Linked DNA regions of Homo sapiens: regions 1, 2 and 3 are each linked to region 4. The links come from fine-mapping of genetic effects on gene expression. A gene starts in region 4. Each other region holds a variant in brackets. All regions are shown on one strand. Distances are from middle to middle.

Region 1 (5,038 bases), 280 kb after region 4:
GGCTGGAGTGTAGTGGCGCAATCTCGGCTCATTGCAACCTCTCCTTCCGGGGTTCAAGTGATTTTCCTTCCTGAGACTCTCAAGTAGCTGGGATTATAAGCACGCACCACCACACCAGGCAAATTTTTTTTTTCTTGTATTTTTAGTAGAGATGGGGTTTCACCATGTTGGCCAGGCTGGTCTTGAACTCCTGACCTCAAGTGATTCGCCAGCCTCGGCCTACCAAAGTGTTGGGATTACAGATGTGAGCCATGATGCCCGGCCAAAGTCAGTCTTTAATGTATAAGAACCATGAAGTTAAACAAAGATCTGAGGGCATCCTTGTCTTGTTAAGCAGAAATAAAACTGGGATGTCATTCTTTGTGGAGATGTGTGACTTGCCTGGCTGGGTGGGGACTGTCCATTCCTGGGGACAGTCACACCCTCTGCCCTTCAGGTCCCACCTGCCCGCGGCCCCTCCTCCTCAAGGCCAAGGGGAATGTCTGGCTGTGACTCACCTTCTTGCTGAGTCGCAGGTGTACCTTGGACAGTGCTTCTCTCAGAGCATGGGTTCCACAGCCTTCCTCTGGATCCTCCCACATTTTTCCTGTAGCAAACTGAGATGCATCAGACACGTTACAACCCAGCAGGGATCCTGAGTGTGGCCTAAGACAGTGGCCTCACGGGCCCCACCCCAAACCCACTGGCTCACAGCTGCAGCAGAGGGGGCCTGGGAATCTGAATGGTCGACAGTCCACGGGATTCTGTTGTGCAGCTGAGCTTGGAAACCCATGTCCTGCAATCACTTCTTCTTAAGATCTTGCCTTGGTGTGTAGTTGGTTTTATGACTCTTCCTTTTAATCAAGTATATGTTTGTACCAGTTTTTCCAATTTTATGTCAGCCTGTATACTTTATTACACATCTTTAGCTATCTGTACTTAATCATGGCATTTGCTTTAAGTAAGCTACAATTTACACATAAATTCAACCATGCTTTTTAGTTCATTTGATGTGTTCTAATATCGCATGGGTTTGTCCTTTTTCAGGCATTTTTCCCTTTTTGTGTTTTTTCCTGTTTTTATTTTTATTATGTATTTTTTTCTTTTGGGGGGTTATTTAAGTAAAATTAATTAATTTTACATTTTTGGATTTGTGCTTTAGAGGTAACTTTGGTGAGAGAGGAGGTATTTGGCTAGTGCACATAAACACAGCATAAACATAACCACTTTTAAAAACTGGTTTCCAACTCTTTCTGGTTAGATACAAGAGCTTTCATCTGACCATTGTCACTGCCACAGGGCCAAGGGAGAGTGAGGGTCTGGGCACAGGGACAGCTGTCAGTGTGGCCTGCTGTGGGGGAGCTGACAAGACAGAGGCTGCTGATGCCACTGGATTGGCAATCAAAGGCCAGTACCATTGTGTCTTAAAAAGAGCAGCTTCAGGCTGGGTGTGATGGCTCACACCTGTAATCCCAGCACTTTGGGAGGCCGAGACAGGCGGATCACGAGGTCAGGAAATTGAGACCATCCTGGCTAACATGGTGAAACCCCATCTCCACTAAAAATACAAAAAAATTAGCCAGGCGTGGTGGTGGGCGCATGTAGTCCCAGCTACTCGGGAGGCTGAGGCAGGAGAATGACGTGAACCTGGGAGGCAGAACTTACAGTGAGCCGAGATCGCACCACTGCACTCCAGCCTGGGTGACAGAGCAAGACTCAGTCTCAAAAAAAAAGAGCAGCTTCAGAAAGGAGTTGAAGTGAAACCAGGGTGACTGGGTTAGGAAGTAAGGGGTGAGAATAAGAAGTCAGGACCAACTCCGCTAGAAATCTTGGATGTGAAGCAAGCGGAATTTCCATGAGGGGCTTGGCAGGGTGACTGAAACCCAACTCCTGGTCTTTGATGTAGAAAGTCAACCTCTTCTCAATCTGGAGTAAGCTGAGATGCAGACACACTGCCCATGTATCCCCCAGGGCTGAAGTCACTCTCCCTCCCAGGCTGCTGCAGTGCACCCTGCGGAATGTCCAGGGTGGCCTCAGGTAGGGAGGTGGTGTCGGGTGCTGGGCAGGTGGTCTGAGGGAGCGTTTGGTCTGTTTTGTAGTGTTCAGGGGAATATTTACAATAAGAGATAAGGAGCCAGGAATTAGGGAAGATTTAAGACTAGGCAAGGAGATAACTGGTAGCTCAGTCAGGAGAGGGCAGCACTGAGGGCAGGGGCTGAGGAGGGCAGGGCTTTGGGATAGGATCAAGGAGGCGGAGTGAATGAAACAGGTTGGT[C/T]GTATGTGGTGAGTGTGTGTGTGTGTGTGAGACATTGTGAATAAATGTGTGAGAGTGTATGTGAATGAATGTGAGTGGTGAGTGTGTGTGAGTGGTGAGTGTAAGTGTGTATGTGAATGAATGTGACTGGTGAGTGTGATGGGTGTGTGTGTATGTGAATGAATGTGAGTGGTATGAAAGACAGTGTGTGTGTGTGCGTGCGAATAAATGTGAGTGATGTGTGTGAGTGTGTGTGAATGGTGTATGTGTATGTGAATGAATGTGAGTGGTGGGTGTGAGTGTGAGTGAGTGGTGTGTGTATGTGAATGAATGTGAGTGGTGAGTGTGTGAGTGGTGTGTGTGAATGTGAGTGGTAGGTGTGAGTGTGAGTGCTGTGTGTGTGAATGAATGTGAGTGGTGGGTGCGAATGTGAGTGGTGTGTGTGTATGTGAATGAATGTGAGTGGTGAGTGTGTGAGTGGTGTGTGTGTATGTGAATGAATGTGAGTGGTGAGTGTGAGTGTGAGTGGTGGGTGTGTGAATGAATGTGAGTGGTAGGTGCGAGTGTGTGTGAATGGTGTGTATGTGAATGAATGTGAGTGATGGGTGTGAGTGTGAGTGGTGTGTGTGTATGTGAATGAATGTGAGTGGTGAGTGTGTGAGTGGTGTGTGTGAATGTGAATGAATGTGAATGGTGAGTGTGAGTGGTGCATGTGTGAATAAATGTGAGTGGTAGGTGTGAGTGTGAGTGGTGTGTGTGAATGAATGTGAGTTGTAGGTGTGAGTGTGTGTGAATGGTGTGTATGTGAATGAAAGTGAGTGGTGGGTGTGAGTGTGAGTGGTGTGTGTGTATATGAATGAATATGAGTGGTGTGAGTGTGTGGTGTGTGTATGTGAATGAGAGTGGTGAGTGTGTGAGTGGTGGGTGTGTGAGTGAGTGGTGTGTGTATGTGAATGAATGTGAGTGGTGTGTGTGGTGTGTGTGTATGTGAATGAATGTGAGTGGTGAGTGTGAGTGTGAGTGGTGTGTGCGTGAATGAATGTGAGTGGTGGGTGTGAGTGTGAGTGAGTGGTGTGTGTGTATGTGAATGAATGTGAGTGGTGGGTGTGAGTGTGAGTGAATGGTGTGTGTGTATGTGAATGAATGTGAGTGGTGGGTGTGAGTGAGAGGTGTATTTGTGTGAGTGTGTGTATGTGAACGAATGTGAGTGGTGGGTGTGAGTGTGCATGTGTACAGAGTGGCTCTCAGGGCTGCAGGCCTTGCAACAGGGCTAGGCGGTGTGCTTTCTGCTGAGCATTTGGCCAGAGGTGCTTGGGATCACAGGGCAGTTCTGCAGATCCAGCTGTGATCTGACACCTGGAATTTCCAGCTGACCTTGGTGCCAGGGCTGGGAGTCCCTGTCTGAGGAGGCAGCGGCAGGGCTGAGAGCCTGGGTGGGGTCTGTGGGGGTGAGAAAAGGAGGGGTTGTGGTCAGTGTGGGGTCCAGGCAGAGCAGTGCACACAGCTGAATGGATTGTAAATTGATCATAATGGGGTTTATAGAGACTTTTTAATGATTTCACTAGGATTGTGTTGATTAGATAAATTCTGTGCCAGGGAACAATTGCGTTATCAGAAATTGTCTTTCTCTCTCTGGTGGTCAACAAGTTCCCCCTTTGTCCTCACTTTTCATGTGAATCACCCTAATATCAACTGCACTCCAATAGTCTGCCAGTTCCACAAATCTCTTCTAGTATCAAAGTGACCTGCATGGAACTGCAGTGGTGTCCCTGGGTGGTTGTTTCCAGATGGTCTCACTGGCCCCATTGTCTGTAAGACTCTTGTGCAATCAGCACCAGGAGCCTAGAAAAGCCTATTGGGTCATATCGTATCACTAATCCATGAGTTCCTGGAAGCTGAAGAGCACCCCCTCCATAAACTCTGGGGCAATGTCCGCATCTTGGGGGAGAGGTGCAGTGACAGTACAGGTGGGCACAAAAGGGTTGGAAAAGGGGCAAAGATGAAGGAGGCACCAGGAAGCTGGCAAGAAAATGGCCCCACTGATAACTGAGACTTGCCAATGGTGTCTGTAAGATTACCTGAGCCTCTCAAATATCCCTAGATTTGCAGCCACTCGGGGGAAAAAGCCTCATAATCCTGTTGTTGTTATTTTGAAAAGGATCTCACAAGTGGAGATCAGCTAACGGTGTGATGTTCTCGCTCATTGTGTTTTGTTCATTTTTTCAAACTAGTGATGGAGCGTTCTCTACTCTGCCAACCACTGTGCTAAGTAATGGGCCCAGAGCAGAGCAGCATGTGCCCTCAGCCTGGGAAATGCTCTGGTATTTGGTGGTAAGCTTGCAAATTTCAAAGAAAGCAGAATAAGGCAGGGAAGAGGAGAGCTGAATATTGTTGGAACTGGATTATGAAAGTGCCCAGTGTAATAGCAGTCCTCATTTGGACCCTTTTTCCATTGGGAATTGGATTTTCACAGTGATGTGAGGGAGAAGGGATTCGGGACAGCTGGGACCAGAATGAGGCTGATGTTTGCTTCAAGGGACCCTTTCTCTGCTGTTCCCAATAGATTAGTAGTTATCAGGGTGTAGCCTTAAGAGAAACACTGAATTTGGGGGTGGTTTTCTTTCCGGCTCCCAGAAATCATTAAACTCATTGCAGATTGAGAATTGTCTATTTTGGGTCCTTCCGTCTGTCTAAAATCCTCTGGGAACTTGATTCCAAAGAAATTAAATCATAGACTGATTCCACTTCCCAAGAGTAGCAATACATTTCAGGTAAGGGAAGGAGCCTGGGAGAGCGGGGCAGAGA
Region 2 (5,038 bases), 55 kb before region 4:
GCGAGCTTCTCTGCTTTCTTTGGGATGTGCCTGAGGTCCAACATCTTTCGCGAGGCTGGAGGGCTCTGCCCAGGACCCAGCTTCCTGGTGTCCCCCATGCCATTCCCTCTTGCCCTCTGATGCACTTCCTTGGGGTGCTAGTCTAGGCTACTTATGGGACCTGATCATCTCTCTCTCTCTTTCCCCAACCTAGGGAAATTTCTCTTTAATTTGGGGAAAATTCTTCTCTCCTCAGGCCTTATTCTTCACATGGGACTTAATTTCCTCCTTTCCTTTCAAACCTTGTCCTTCTCTATGGATTTAGACTTTTAGACAAAAGTCAGGAGGTGCTGCCACCAACCTCAATGGAGGCAAGAATCGTTGGAGCCCGCTTGAATAGGGAGAAGAGAAAAGGGAAAAAAAAGTAGTAGCTCCCCAAATTAAGCTTGCCATACTCCTTCAAAGCCCAAAGTTCTTAGAGACCATACAGCTTGCTTGGTCAGGAGCTCTGGGCACCACCTACTACTTTGAGGGAGAAACTGCTGCATCTTCAAGAGCAGTACAGATGGACAGAACTTTCAGGTAAAACAAAAATGCTAGATGTCTGTGCTGCCCAACATGGTCGCCACTGGCCACATGTGACTAATGAGCACTTGAAACATGGCTAGTATAACCAAGGAAAGGATTGTTCATTTTTAAAAATTTTAACTCATTTAAATTTAGATAGGTATTTGAAATCATAAAAATATAGATAATTTCTCAAATTGTTTTATAAAGAAATACAATACAAAACCAACATCTGATTAAAAGCATAAAGAAGAAGAATAGATGACTCTCATTATGAATATATATGCAATAATCCTCCGAATAAAATAGCAAAAGACCAAAAAATAACTTAAATAGACACACATGGCTGGCTGGTGGCCATTGTATTGAACAGCACATTTCTAGAGAAATGATGGAAGAGGAGTATAATCCAGCTTACATTTGAAAGAATGTCTCAGGCTGTTAGATAGAAAGTGGATCGAACAGTGGGAATAGTGGAAGCTGGAAGCCAGTTGAGAGGCTTATTGTGCTGTTCTGAGTGAGAAGTCATATCTTAGATCAGACTATGGTGTTAGTGGAGAATAAAGACTGGACAGATTTAAAAATTACTTTGGAGGTGGAACCAGTGGTGGCAGCCCACTGGTGACTGGGACCCAGGTGCCACACTCCACTCTGAAACCACATTTGGAGTTAAACCGACTCACCCTCCTTACGAATTGTTTTGGACCACTCATTAATTTTCATGGATGCCCTTGATGGAGGACATGTCTTCTTCCAGTGTGGACACCGTTTCAAGCCACGTGAGGTACCTGAGACAAGGATGGCACCCCCTCTATCCAAGTGGTTTATCAAACTGCAAATCCACTAATATGAGCTGGCAAATACCAAAGGTTGATTTTCCAAATGATGTTTTAATGTCCCCAAGCAAATCTTAGCTGCCCCCACTCGAATAAAGACAATGAGTAAACGAAAAGAGAAATCATTATTATGCAGCTACTCTTTAAAGAAAAAGCACTAACCAAACAGGGCTTCCTATCTGGCCATCCGTCTGACAGATATGTTTTCTCAGCACCTACTCTCAGCCTTTTTGGAGGCTGCTCCAGAAAGGGGCTGGGGAAAGAGAAGGTTCTTTCTATTTTACCCCAAATTAGGTAATTCCACCAAAGCTCTTCAGGGTTTGGCTTCTCTTCCCTCCTTCTGTCTTTTTGTGTTCCAATGGTCAGTTCCAGAAGTTCCATGAGTTGGCTTGTCTTTCCAACAGTTTCACATGGTGCCTGAGCAACATTTTGCAATATTAGTAATTCCCATTACTCCTACATTATATTAACTCCATAGGTCTAGTTGTAACATGCATGGCACGTGATTGTAATTCTCTACATTAGCTGATGGACATTGAATGTAGAATTGTGAATAGTCTTATTTTTTACAAAAAATATTTAGTAACATTTAATTAAAATTTCAACTTGCCCATTGGTTAAGGGAAAGTTTGTTTCAGTCTCAAAATGCTCTTTATTACAAAATACACTTAAAATGCACTGAGCAACAATCAATAAACATATCCTTAGCCTTTGTCTACTTGGAAAAATCAATAGGGTTGGTACAATG[G/A]AGTATTAATGCGTAAAGGAACTGTATGTACATTTTACAGCGATGGGTTTCTGTTATAGACAGAATGTAAAATAAGGTAAGGCTCGAAGAGCTGTCCACTCAGCCAGATGTTCTCCCTTCAGACGTCCTGACCCTCCAAAGGCACCAAAACTTACATCCCTACTATGACTTCATCATTAGTTTGCATATCCAAAAGGAAAAAAAATCAATTTCTAAGAGAAATGGTTAGATTTCAAAACACCGCACCTAAGGTGATTTATCTTATCAGCAGTTTCTTCATTAACTCTTGAACTAATAAAGTAAAATCTCATTAAAGCAAGCCCCATGGAGGCTCCTATTTTGGGGTGGAGAACTGTGAACACATTGCCCTAAATTGCTTTTGGTTCCACCGAACTCGGAGAACAGTTGGTGCCTGGCTTCTCTGCCTCACACTGGGAGAGTGAATGGGGATCCGCAAGGACCTCTGACCTCAGGAGGATGGAGGGAAGGGGCTCGCCTGCTCCCCTTCTGCTTCTTCACTAAGCAGGTGGGTCTCTAGGGAGCTTGGGGTTTACCTCGTTGGTCCTGCTGGACTGGGGTGCTGGGGAGAAGTTGGAAAGGAACGTGGACTTTGGGGATGGAATCATTTTGAGCAACTACTCAAGTCTTAGTGTGCGATGAAAATCCCTTGGCAGGTTACTAAACATGCAGATTCCTAGGCCCCAGCCCCAAAGATAAGACTCATAGGTCAGGAAATGTGCCTTTCTACAGACATCTCAAGTGATCTGGGGGCAGAAAGCCCAGGAGATGACCAGTCCTTCCTGAGTACTTCATCTGACCTTTATACTACCAGACTTACGTAAGACTTCCTGATCTCTGTCTCCTACTCTCATCCTTCACCTGCATTTTAGACATAAATTTCCAAAGCCAGCCAGGTGCGGTGGCTCACGCCTGTAATCCCAGCACTTTGGGAGGCTGAGGCGGATGGATCATGAGGTCAGGAGTTCGAGACCAGCCTGACCAACATGGTGAAACTCCATCTCTACTAAAAATACAAAAATTAGCCAGGCGTGGTGGTGGGCACCTGTAATCCCAGCTACTCAGGAGGCTGAGGCAGGAGAATTGCTTGAACCTGGGAGGTGGGGGTTGCAGTGAGTCGAGATCGCACCACTGCACTCCAGCCTGGGCGACAGAGTGAGACTCCATCTCAAAAGTAAATAAATAAATAAATATAAATTTCCAAAGCCTGCTAGATAGATCTAAAAATAAACACTATAGCCAATGACTGGAACACTCTGGGAATAGTATTCCACAGTGTGCACTTTGAGGTCTCTTGGAGTTATTCTAAAAGCACAGTGAGGTTTAGAACCAATTGTATAGAGAATGAAGAGGCACAATAGCAGAGTCTTGATAAAAAAATTTCCATTTAAGGCCAAAGAAGCCAACGAAGAGTCAGTGAAAAAGAGGAGGTGCTTTGTCAAAGGAGCAGAGCCTGTAGGAAGATGAGGGGTGTCTGAAACTATATAAATTGGGACAAATATAATAGGCCACCAATTAAAGGTAAAAAGATGGCTTTTGAGAACATTGTTTTGGTTCTAAAGAGAAAGAGAAAAGTTATATGAACGTGGTCTCTCTCTTTCTCATTGTCTCATTGTCATACTCACCCTTCTTGTGATGGTGTGAGATGGTAAAATGTGTATGGGATAGGATGAAGTTGTGTGAATGGCGTAGGCACTGTGATGTGCCTACTAGTGATTCAGCCACTATCGACCTTCTGACAACGTCTCAGAAGATGGAGCCTCTGCTTTGTGTGATCCTAGATCACCAAGCATGACAATGAAGATGGCGGGATGTCAAGAGCAGACAGTGTTGATGACCAAGAAGGGGGTAGAGCAGACAACATGGATACGCTGGACAAAGGGATGATTCACGTTCTTATTGGGACGGAGCAGAATTGTGCAAGATTTCATCATGCTACTCAGAACGACGTGCAATTTAAAACTTGTATGTTGTTTGTTTCTGGAGTTTTGTTTAATATTTTCAGATCACAGTTGATGCAGGTAACTGAAACTGCGGGTAAGGGAAGACAATCATGTTTGTAGGTTGTAGCAGGGAGCCCATAGGGCTAGAAAGTCTACAAAGAAAATCAAGAGAGAATAATGGCTCAAGTTCCTAGGGGAAGTCTTCTCTCTTTCTCTTCTTTCGGTATGACATCAAGACAGACTGACCAACCTTTTCAGTCAAAATTTGATTTAGAGGCAATCATTTAATCAGGGGTTGGAAAACTTTTTCCTAAAGGTGCTAGAGAGTAAACATTTTAGGCTTTGTGGGAAAGTGGCAAAATTGAGGATACTGTACATAACTATATAACATTTAAAACATAAAAACACATTCTTAGCTTGTAGGCCATAACGAAAATAGGCAGTGGCTTGGATTTGGCCCATGGGCCATACTTTGTCCATCCAATTTAAACAAAGGACCTGTGTCCTTTGACTTGAGTAGAAGTTTTGAATTTTTCCTTTTTCCTTAATGCAAATGCTTCATGTTCAAGGAAATATTACATTTGAATACTCTGGGTCAAATCATAGAAAATCAAATCACAACTAAAGACAAGATCCCAATCCCAAGCCAGTGCAAATGGCCCAATTTATACCTGAAAGCAAAAAGCCCTCTCTGTGAAGTTCTGCTTGGCAAAGCAAGCCATGCATTGCTTTGCTTAGGACAAGCATTTAAACCTGAACAGTGCTATTTACCTAGGGAGGTCAAACCTTCATAGGTTTCAGATCTCTTTTCTGTGCTCTCTATGTCAGAGTCTACTCTCCCGTGAGGCTGAATAGAGCTGCCGATTTCACTGTGGCTATTTGAGAAAAGTAGAAAAATCAGTTAAAGGGAGAATGATGCACAAAAGTAAAAGATATCAGTAGCCTAG
Region 3 (5,037 bases), 31 kb before region 4:
TATAATCATGAGAATGTCATGTTCTCAATTTAATTTTACTATATAAAGTTTTAGGCCAGGTGCGGTGGCTCATGCCTGTAATCCCAGCACTTTCGGAGGCTGAGTCGGGCGGATTACCTGAGGTCAGGGGTTTGAAACCAGCCTGGCCAACATGGTGAAAAAACGTCTCTACTAAAAATACAAAAATTAGCTGGGTGTGGTGGCAGGCACCCGTCAGGAGGCTGAAGCAGGAGAATTGCTTGAACCCAGAAGGCGGAGGTTGCAGTGAGCTGGGATCACAGCCTTGCACTCCAGTCTAGGCAACTAGAGCGAAACTCCGTCTCAAAAAAAAAAAAAAAAAAAAGTTTTAACAATTTAATTCAATTGTTACATTAGTGAAAATACTGTATTTACTGGTGAAAAAATGTATTTATTATTTTGCTATATGTCTATTTTCCAACTGAATAAAATATTCTTAAAAATAAATGTACTAAATAGGTACTTAAATTCTTCATTACTAAACAGAAATTGGAAATTCAACAAAATTAAAGATTAGGGCCAGGTGCAGTGGTTCACGCCTATAATCCCAGCAATTTGGGAGGCCGAGGCAGGCAGATCATCCGACGTCAGGAGTTTGAGACCAGCCTGGCCAACATGGCGAAACTCTGTCTCTACAAAAAATGCAAAAATTAGCTGTGCGTGGTGGTGCACACCTGTAGTCTCATATACTTGGGAGGCTGAGGCAGGAGAATCGCTTGAACTCAGGAGGAGGAGGTTGCAGTGAGGTGAGATCACACCACTGCACTCCAGCCTAGGAGATACAGCGAGACTCCATATTAAAAAAAAAAAAAAAAAGAAAAGAAAAAAGATTAGCTTCCTACATAACCCATTAGGAGCTAAGTAACAGTTGGTCCTCCACAAACAGTCATCCCTCCATATCTGTGGCGGAGTGGTTCCAGGACCCCCATGGATACCAAAATCTGACAGTGCTCAAGTACCTTACATAAAATGGTGTAATATTTGCATATAACCTATGCACATGCTCCGGTAGACTCTAAATCATCTCTAGATTATCTGATACCTAACATAATACATGCATGTCACTTTATTCACGTGAATTCAATATGGTAGTTGGCACAAAGCAAATTCAAGTTTTACTTTTTGGAACTTTGCAGAATTTTTTTTTAATCAAATATTTTCAATCCAGAGTTGGTTGAATCCACAGATATGGTGGGCCAATTCTAATTAATAATTTTGTCAACAATATTTACTTTAGGAGATTAACGAAGTGAAAAAATGCCAGCTCAAGTCTGACATTTTCAGTACTGAGAAGACTAAAGAGTTCAAGATGAAGTCCTAAAAAGGAAACAGAAGGAGGAAAAGATAAAGAAAGAGAAAAGAAGGGGTTTGGAAAAAGAAAGAAATTTCGTTTTCAAACTTACAATGGTAGGGTCTACATTTGCCATCACCAGAAAGAGCCCTGCGTGCTCAGCACTGCTGATCCACATCTTTGATCCATTGAGGACATAATAATCTCCCTCTTTATCAGCTCTGGTCTTCAAAGCAAATGAGTCACTACCTGCTCCAGCCTCTGAAAGGCAGAAACTTCCTACCTACATATGGGAGAAAAAAATGTCCAAATTAATAACTGTATTTATACTCTGTATAACAAATACTTATGGAAAAATGGACATTTGTAAATCAAATCTTTAGCTGCTTTTTTAAAAAGCCTATATTTATGAAAATAGCAATGGTATTCTGAAAGTATTATTTTCCAAAAAATATACCCTATTTGTCCAAGACAAATTTAAAGACTCACGAACACATACTCATTGAAATTGATTTGAATAATTACAGCAGAAAGACATCACAACGTAAATGAAACCATCAACAAACGTATTAGAAAATATAATCAGGACAAAAAGAAATAATTTTATTATCTGATGATTATTTTCTAAATTTCCAACTGGCAAATAAGAGGTAGAGTGTACTTTTCCAGCAGCATTAATTTATCAAGCATTGCTTGAATTAATGATACCGCATTGTGGTCTTGGATAGTAAAGTCGACATTGCAGCTACTTTTTTCCTGAAAATATTGTAAACTTACTAAAGATTAGATCCATTAGATCAACAATTCATCTCAACTCACTTTTTCTGTAGTGAGCTGAGGCAAATAGGTGGCCTTTTGTTCTTCTGTTCCATGTTTTCTAATCAGTGTGTTAATTAATGTGTTCTGGATCTCACAAAAGACAGCCACAGATGCATCAACTTTGGCTAATTCCTCTATCACGAGCACAGTGGATAAAAATGAAGCTCCTGTGCCTCCATATTCTGGGTCAACTTCAATACCCATCAACTAAAGAAAAAACAAGGCAACATAGATTAAGAAAGCTATTTTTATATGGGGAAATTTCTTGCATGAACAAGTTAAAAAATAAACTGTAACCATATTTATTATTATTATTTTTTTTTTGAGACAGTCTTGCTCCGTCTCCCAGGCTGGAGTGCAATGGCGCAATCTCAGCTCACTGCAACCTCCACCTCCTGGGTTCAAGCAATTCTCCTGCCTCAGCCTCCCAAGTCACTGGGATTACAGGTGCCCACCATCACACCCAGCTAATTTTTTTTTTTTTTTTT[TA/A]GTAGAGATGGGGTTTCGCCATGTTGGCCAGTCTGGTCTCGAACCCCTGACCTCAGGTGATCCACCCACCTCAACCTCTCAAAGTGTTGGGATTACAGGCGTGAGCGACTGTACCCAGCCACCATAATTATTCTTAATTTTAAAATTTTGTATTTATATTTTATTTTAATTTGGTATAGCAATTTTGCCATAAGTAACAAAAAAATCTGTAACAGAAACTGTATATTTGAAAAGGATAAAATTATATGCTATCATTTGCTTCCTTTTGGGATTCAAAAAATAATGAGAGGTAAAATGCTTTAAAGGGTAGCTTAATGGAATGAGAAAATATCTTATATACTTAGATGACCTTTCTTGCTAAGAACTGTTGTTGCCTGCTTAAAGCAGGTAGGTGGGGTTTTGATTTTTCAACATGCCCTACCCACCTTATGCTGATTTCAATGTAATAAGGAAACAGAAGAAAATAACCTACTCCTCAATGGGATGTCTATAGTTTCATTTGGCAAAGTTTCTTCTAGTCAGGCTCTTTCACCTTGACTTTTTCAGCCAAGTTAATAATTGAATGACCATTCCTTTTACGCCACTTCATAAGTTCAGGATGGTTAGCAGAGAACATGTGGTGGTGTTTGCTAGAGCCACACTAGCCAAAGCACGAGGGCCTGGTAAACACGACCAGTGCCAGCCAAGCCTTTCCAACGACCCAGTTCCATCGTTACTGAAACTCACATAGTACTCTCAATTTCACAAAGAGAATGTGTGCATGTGTAATTCAAAACCCACAGCTGCTAACAGAAGGATAATTCTCTTAGTCTCTCTCTAGACATTCCTGGAGTCACACTATGCTGCAGTCAGGGCTGTGGCTGTTACATTTTGGGCTACAACAGGAAAAGGGAACCAGAAATGCGAGCGACTGAATGGTGAGAAAACCAGAAACGAGGAAGAACGGAAGGATCTGGGTTTGCCTGAGAACTGAGGAGGGCACTCCGGAAACCTCATTACAATGACTCGAACAGATATCAGAGACATTGCTTCTCTAAAAAAGTCACTAATCTCTCCCAACGTGGAAATAGTGTTTTTGCAAGCCATTATGCCAAAAACCCAGGACAATGGGAGTGAGGAGGCAGGTGAGGCTGCATCTGCACAGGAGTGGTTTGTGGAGATGAGTAGCAGGGTGCAGGCAATGCATCACTCTGCAGACAGCCCCGCTGCAGGAACGACCACCGCGGGGGAGATCTCACACTGTGAAACCGTGAGACTGCTCCCAGAAGCCTAGAGGGTCTGCAAGCAATAGAAATAAAACCTGGCTGAGAAATGGACTCACAGAGTCCATCTGTTCTCCACATCGGCCTCCTGTTTGACCACTATGGTTCCACATAAGATTCCAGTTTCCTAAGAGTTTGACTGCTAAAAGAAAGATGGAAGAATCACTACTACACACGGTATAAAAAAGCTGGTTGCTTTAAAACAGAAATAAATAAAACTATCTAGCTAAGTGGCAATGGTTATTTTTCAAACCAGATGGCAGACAAGATTTAGGCCAATGGCTCTGAATAGCAGCCACTTGTTCTGGGACATCTTTAGTATTAAAAATTAAAAAAAATATATTTTATACCTCTGCGGAAGTGAGAAATGATGCGTGCAGTGATTTTTAAAATGTTCTTCTAGAAGCCCCTATGCTAATAGCCCCTCCCCCTACTCACAGTGAGAGCGGTTTTACTTGTATCTATTTCATACGTTGTATTTCCATTAAAGAGCTATGTGACTTGAGAAGATGGGAATCTGTTGCCCGGTTTATGTGGAATTCATGTATCACCTCTGCTTCTAAGTTTATCACTTATATAGAGCTTCAGGTAGAATATAAACTATGCTATGAAGTTTCACTATCTAAAGTAGGGTTTCTTCATGGTGGCATTGGGTTGGATAATTCTTTGTTGTGGCAGTTGTCCTGTGCACTACAGGATGTTGAGTGGCATCCCTTGTCTCTATCCCACTAGATGCCAGTAGCACGCCTTAGCTGTGGCAACCAAAGATGTCCCTAGACGTTGCCCAATGTCCCCTGGAGGGCAAAACTGCCCCCATTTGAGAACCGCTGGTCTAAAGATACAAATAAATTACCATCTTACTTCCAAACTTTTCCTTAAAATATACAGTATTTCAAATTAAAAAATGTTAATTCCATTTTTAAGAACTTTTAAGTACATAAATATCAAGTAGGATTTCAACCAAAAAAAGAAAACAGATAATTTTGACTGGGAAATGCAGGGTTCATTATGCTATCATTACAGTCCCTGAATTTAATTATAGAAGCTTGAAAGTGGAAGAATTATGAAATGTACCCCTTGTTGAAATAATCCTTGTATTACTGATTTCTCCATTTTCGAATTTTCATCCATGGTTGAAACCAAAGGTGCAATTTGTTC
Region 4 (5,038 bases):
CTTGTCTAAAAAAAAAAAAAATCATCTCTTAAAAGACATCAAGCGGCCTGGTGTGGTGGCTCACGCCTGTAATCCCAGCATTTTGGGAGGCCATGGCGGGTGGATCATGAAGTTAGGAGTTTGAGACCATTTCCATCTTGCTGACCAAGATGGTGAAACCCCATCTGTACTAAAACTACAAAAATTAGCCAGGCAAGGTGGCAGGCGCCTGTAATCCCAGTTACTCGGGAGGCTGAGGCAGGAGAATCGCTCGAATCCGGGTGGCATAGGTTACAGTGAACTGAGATCGCACCACAGCACTCCAACCTGGGCGACAGAGTAAGACTCCGTCTCAAAAAAAAAAAAAAAAAGATATCAAGCTACATTAAAATGCTTTGGAACCACAGGTTAACTACAAGGTCCAATTCTCCACTAATTGGGTTGCTTAGACCAAATGGGCAGGACAGTTCTAATCCATCTGCAGGACTAGGAGAGACCTTCTGAGAAGGCAGGGGTAGGCTGAAGGTCAGCATTGCAATCTGATTGTTATGTGACTTGGGAACACTGGTTATTGCCTCCGAGTTCCTCATTTGCAAGATGAAGCCACTAATATACCTACTTCAGAGGTTTACAGGAAGAGTAAATAGGGTAGTGGGTGTAAAATGCTGTCCCTGGTCTACAATAAGTGAGTAAATGCTAGCTTTCCATTTGCCTCTGGATAGAAACCAAAATTAGCCCTACCTTGCATTTCTCCCCACTCCATGCCACTTGTGTCCACAGCCATCTACCTACACTGTGGCATGAGGAAACTCCAAAGCTCTTGACCTTCAATGGCTCCTAACAATCCAAAAGGATCAACCCCCAATTCCCTAAAGTGGCCTCAGTCCCCTTTTGTTGCAGTTTTCTGACCACTCCTTTCCCCTCCTAAACTCTAACCCAGCTTCCAAAGAGCCTATCACTTCCCCAATGGTCCTAGTCATTTCTATCTTCTGAATCTGCACGCAGACTGTAGCCCCTTAGGATTTGTTCCACACCTACATGACATGGGGTTAGTTGCACATAGTTCTAACCTTTCCTCTAAAAGATAAACTTCTTGGAGGTAGAGTATTTTATTCATTATTACATCTGGCATAGCACACAATGCTTCGTGCATGGCAGTAAGAGCTGATATTTACCGAGAGCTGACTACATTCCGAGCACTATTCTAAGTGCCTTACATGAACATATGAGCTCATTTAATTTTCACAACAATTTTGGAATACGCACAATTATTCTCTCCATTTACAGACCAGGAAACTGAGACCCAAAGCATAACCTGTCCAAGGTTATACCACTAGGAAGTGAGAGGGCCTGGGTTCAGATCCAAGCAGCCTAGCTACAGAACCTACGTTCTTAACCACTATGCTACAGTCGATGTTCAATCAATTTAGCTAATTTATGTAAAAGAGCTTCAAAAACTATAAAGGACTATAAGCCACAATAAACCAAAAGTTCAAACAAAATAGGTTTTTGATATCTCTAAGGACGGGGAGACAGTAGTATATGAAGGTTAAGTTTAGAATCAGACCAGAGTTCGAATACCACCAGCTCTATCCCTTTCTATCTGTGGGCAAGCTATTATTCTTTTTCAGCATCTGCAAGATTAAACTACTTGTTAAGATGGTTGTGAGAATTGAGATGACTCAGGTAGAACGAGAACGTGCCTACCACAGAGTATGCGGTCAATAAATTTTGGCTCTAAAACAGAGTCAAATTGTAAAACCAAAGAAATTTTCTTTGCTAAGTTATTAACCAACAATTATAAACAGTATTAAACAATAATCACTTACTGTTTTTTATTGCACTTCAGGCCTGTAAAACAGTCAAATAACATTAATTATCTCTAATAAGAAAAAGGGTCAGAGTTCTGCCTCTGGGCATAAGACTGAAGCAGCAGTTGGAAAGCCTAACTCATTAAAGCAAATGCAAAGGAAACATTAAAAGCACACGTAAGCAGTGGGAAAATTCCCAGTGAAGTGTACTGACAAATACAAGTGTATCCAAATGTGTATGTTCTGAAAAGCATGCTATATAATAGGTCCAAGGGGTGAAGAGCATAGGATGTTAACACAGGGGCTGTTAACAGTTTGTGTGGGTGCACAGATAAGAATTAAGCACAACAAGAGGCTGGTTTCAGCTTAAGTTCATGGAAGAGGGACCGGCACCGGCTCCGGCTCCCCTGGGCGGCGGTGAGTCTATCCACGGAAGATACCCAGGCTCCAGACATGAGATAAGGGGCAGAGGGAACTCTGTCCCTGGCCGGGAAGCCCGAACAACTCCGAAGTCCCTTACTACCTTTGAGCGGGGCCGCGGAAGGAAGGACAGGGAGACACCTGCTCAGAATGAGACTGGGCCTATATTTTAACTATCTTTTTTGGGGGAGGGGGTGTGAAATGTAATCACTCGGGAAAGGTGCGTTAGGGCATCAGGGAGGTGACATCTGTGCAAAATGCATCCAGAGATCCAGAGATCCAGACTCGGTGGCTCTCAGGACGCAACGGCCTGCAAAGGACATCTTGCGGACGCGACCCTCCGACTCCACTCAAGGTACTTGCTCCGCCAAAGCAGCTTCTAGACAGCCCCGACCCCCTTGCCACCAGCTGCCTCCACCAGAGGCCTGAAGGGGGTCGGGGTCATAGACTGCCCGCGGGTAAAGAGTCTGGGGACCCAGGACGTGGAGCGGGGCTCAGGCCGGCGCCCCGAGGCCCGTTAGAAGGCTCTGCCAGCTGCGATTCCAGGGGCCAAGGTCGCCCTGGGCCCCCAGGACGCCAGCCTCGAACGCACTCACCAGCCTGCTGCCGCGCAGCAACCGCACTGCCAGGCCCTCCATCCTCGCCGCAGGCCTCTCCGCTCTGCGCCTCTGGGTCTCTAGCCAGCCCCTGGGAGTTACCCGAGCAAGGCCCCGCCCACTCAGTACCCGCCCCGCACACACCCCCCCTTAATCCCTGCCCCCTGCTGCCTACGGAACCCCAAGAGAGACAAACAGGCCCCTCCTCGCTTTCGCCCTCCATCCTGCTCACGCGAGACTTGAGCAAGGCAGGGGGGCGGGAAGGGAGTCGGAGACACAACAAAGATGGCGGCGGCGACTGTGACGGTGACGAAGACGGCGGCGGCGGCGACGGCATTTAACAAGGCGGTGTGGTTTACTCCATGCAGTTGTCAGGAGGTAAGTAGCAGGCTGCCGGCTCGGACGGCGGCGACGCGGCAGGACAGGGCGGATAAGAAGGAGCGGCCGGAGACTGGAGCTGGGTTCGTGGCGGGCCGGCTGATCCGGACGGAGACTCAGTTCAGTGGAGGGTCGGGCGTGGTCGGTAGGCGGGCAGGTGATGGCCCGGGACCTCTTTAGCCGGAGGGCAGTGGACTGCGGCGCCTATGGCCGCGAGAACCCCGAGGGAGCGGGGTCTCCTGCTGTCATTGCCTTCGAGCAGGAGCTCGGAGGCTCCGGGGCGGGGACTGTTGCTTGGCTCTGACAGGTGGTTCTGCGGGAGGCGTCCCGAGGTTTGCGTCTTCACGGGGTCCCAGGGGCTGGGAGTCAGCCGGGCGCGGGTCTCCTAGGTGTTTCGAATCCTGGCGAGGATGTCGCTCCGAATCTTGGTGAGGCTGCTGCCCCGACGCCGGTCCCAGGCTGATTGTTGGGAGAAGGACGTTTAAAGCCTTCGTATTTTATCTAATGATCCTGCCCGGATCCGTCTCTACTGCATGGGCACCCTTATTTTAGGAACATGTGAGATTTGAGAAAGACATTGTAGCAAATAACTATTCAGGTTCATTCGGGGTTTAGATCTTTGGATAAACTGTGTGGAGCGCGAGTAGCCAAGCCTAGCATGCTCGATGACTGGATCTGAAGCTAAACAAGTTCTAGCAAACACTAACCACGTGGCCTGCTTAGAGTCCCCTTGATGTGCTGGTCAGAACCCGAAAGACGTGTGACAAGCGGAAGAAGACATAAAGGCGTCTTAAATTGTGTGATCTGAGGAAATTCAGTTTTGAAAGAACAGAATGTATTTAAAACAACTTTTTTTTAAACGTAGGAACTAACAATTTTAAAAATTCAATTTAATTTTGATTTATGTCGTGTTGTCACAACAGCTAAAGGTTATTATTATTGATGAGAGTTCGTTACAGTGAATTGAAATGTCTGGTGTTATTTTCCCCTAGCGGTCCAGGATGTTTCCCAGAAAACCGTAGCTGTTTTGTGTTATGATAGGATAAGAAGGATGGGATTCAGATGTGCCCTTATCGGGTGTGCATGTTTTTTTTGTTTTTGTATTTAAAGCCCTTTCCCATTTCCCTACTTAGGACTATGCGTTGTTTTTATGCAACTACAGCTGTTCAGCAGTACTAAGCTTGACCGTTTTGGAAGTGTGCTGTGACTAAATGAAGTTAATCTTAATTTCTTTAAACTGAAGTTTAACTTAAATTTAGACATTAAAAATCTTGCCAAAAACTAATCCACCAGTGAGAAAACGGTAGTCACACCAGTTATTCTTTGGTGATCCTATGGAGCTTTTGCTGAAGTGAAGCTACTGCTTTGTTCTTTGATTAATCTGTCAGTTCGTTTTCTTTTCAGCTAATGTAATGATAAGATTGGCATAAGTTACTAGCTCATTCAACCTGTAGATGCTAATTAAGTTTTTATCTTAAAGGTTTTGATTTGTGGTGTGCTGTTTGTTTTTTATGCAGACCTCTGTATGGCTTTTCAATTTTAGTTGAAATTCTCTCTCCATGGCCTTTTGGAGTCCCTTGCTGTATCTCCGAAGTAAATTTCAATTACTCTACATTTCATCAATGTTGGAGTGGCAAGAAAAAGGAGGAACAGATTTGGGGTGAAAAGGTTAGATTGTATAATTTCTCTTCTGGATTTCTTTCAACATGGTTTTACTTATGTTTTATTTTTATGTTTTGATTTCTGATTTCTCAGAGCCTCATAATTTCTTTTTTTGCCTTCAAGAGTTTTTGACAGTTCTGAAATCAGGAATTGTGTTCCAATTATTTTGGAAGGCCCATGTTACTCCATAGA

The links.
Region 1: its variant is fine-mapped to the expression of ACADSB in cerebellar hemisphere (GTEx, PIP 0.97).
Region 2: its variant is fine-mapped to the expression of ACADSB in whole blood (INTERVAL, PIP above 0.99).
Region 3: its variant is fine-mapped to the expression of ACADSB in skeletal muscle (FUSION, PIP 0.95).

The regions. Positions count from the first base shown.
Region 1 is chr10:122,723,102-122,728,139 of GRCh38, reverse strand. No RefSeq gene overlaps it. Among named protein-coding and RNA genes, the nearest start is that of C10orf120, 26 kb to the right of the region's middle. The variant C/T (reference allele first, on the strand shown) is at 2,255.
Region 2 is chr10:123,061,917-123,066,954 of GRCh38, reverse strand. No RefSeq gene overlaps it. Among named protein-coding and RNA genes, the nearest start is that of ACADSB, 55 kb to the right of the region's middle. The variant G/A (reference allele first, on the strand shown) is at 2,131.
Region 3 is chr10:123,037,764-123,042,800 of GRCh38, reverse strand. It overlaps ACADSB (acyl-CoA dehydrogenase short/branched chain), which reads right to left. Exons shown (of 11, transcript NM_001609.4): 3 at 4,954-5,037; 4 at 2,129-2,335; 5 at 1,422-1,592. Among named protein-coding and RNA genes, the nearest start is that of ACADSB, 31 kb to the right of the region's middle. The variant TA/A (reference allele first, on the strand shown) is at 2,617.
Region 4 is chr10:123,006,840-123,011,877 of GRCh38, reverse strand. It overlaps ACADSB (acyl-CoA dehydrogenase short/branched chain), which reads right to left and starts at 2,872. Exons shown (of 11, transcript NM_001609.4): 1 at 2,807-2,872. The coding sequence starts at 2,848. IKZF5 (IKAROS family zinc finger 5) reads left to right here and starts at 3,083. Exons shown (of 5, transcript NM_001372123.1): 1 at 3,083-3,184; 2 at 4,702-4,852. RefSeq lists enhancers at 2,967-3,296, 3,577-3,806.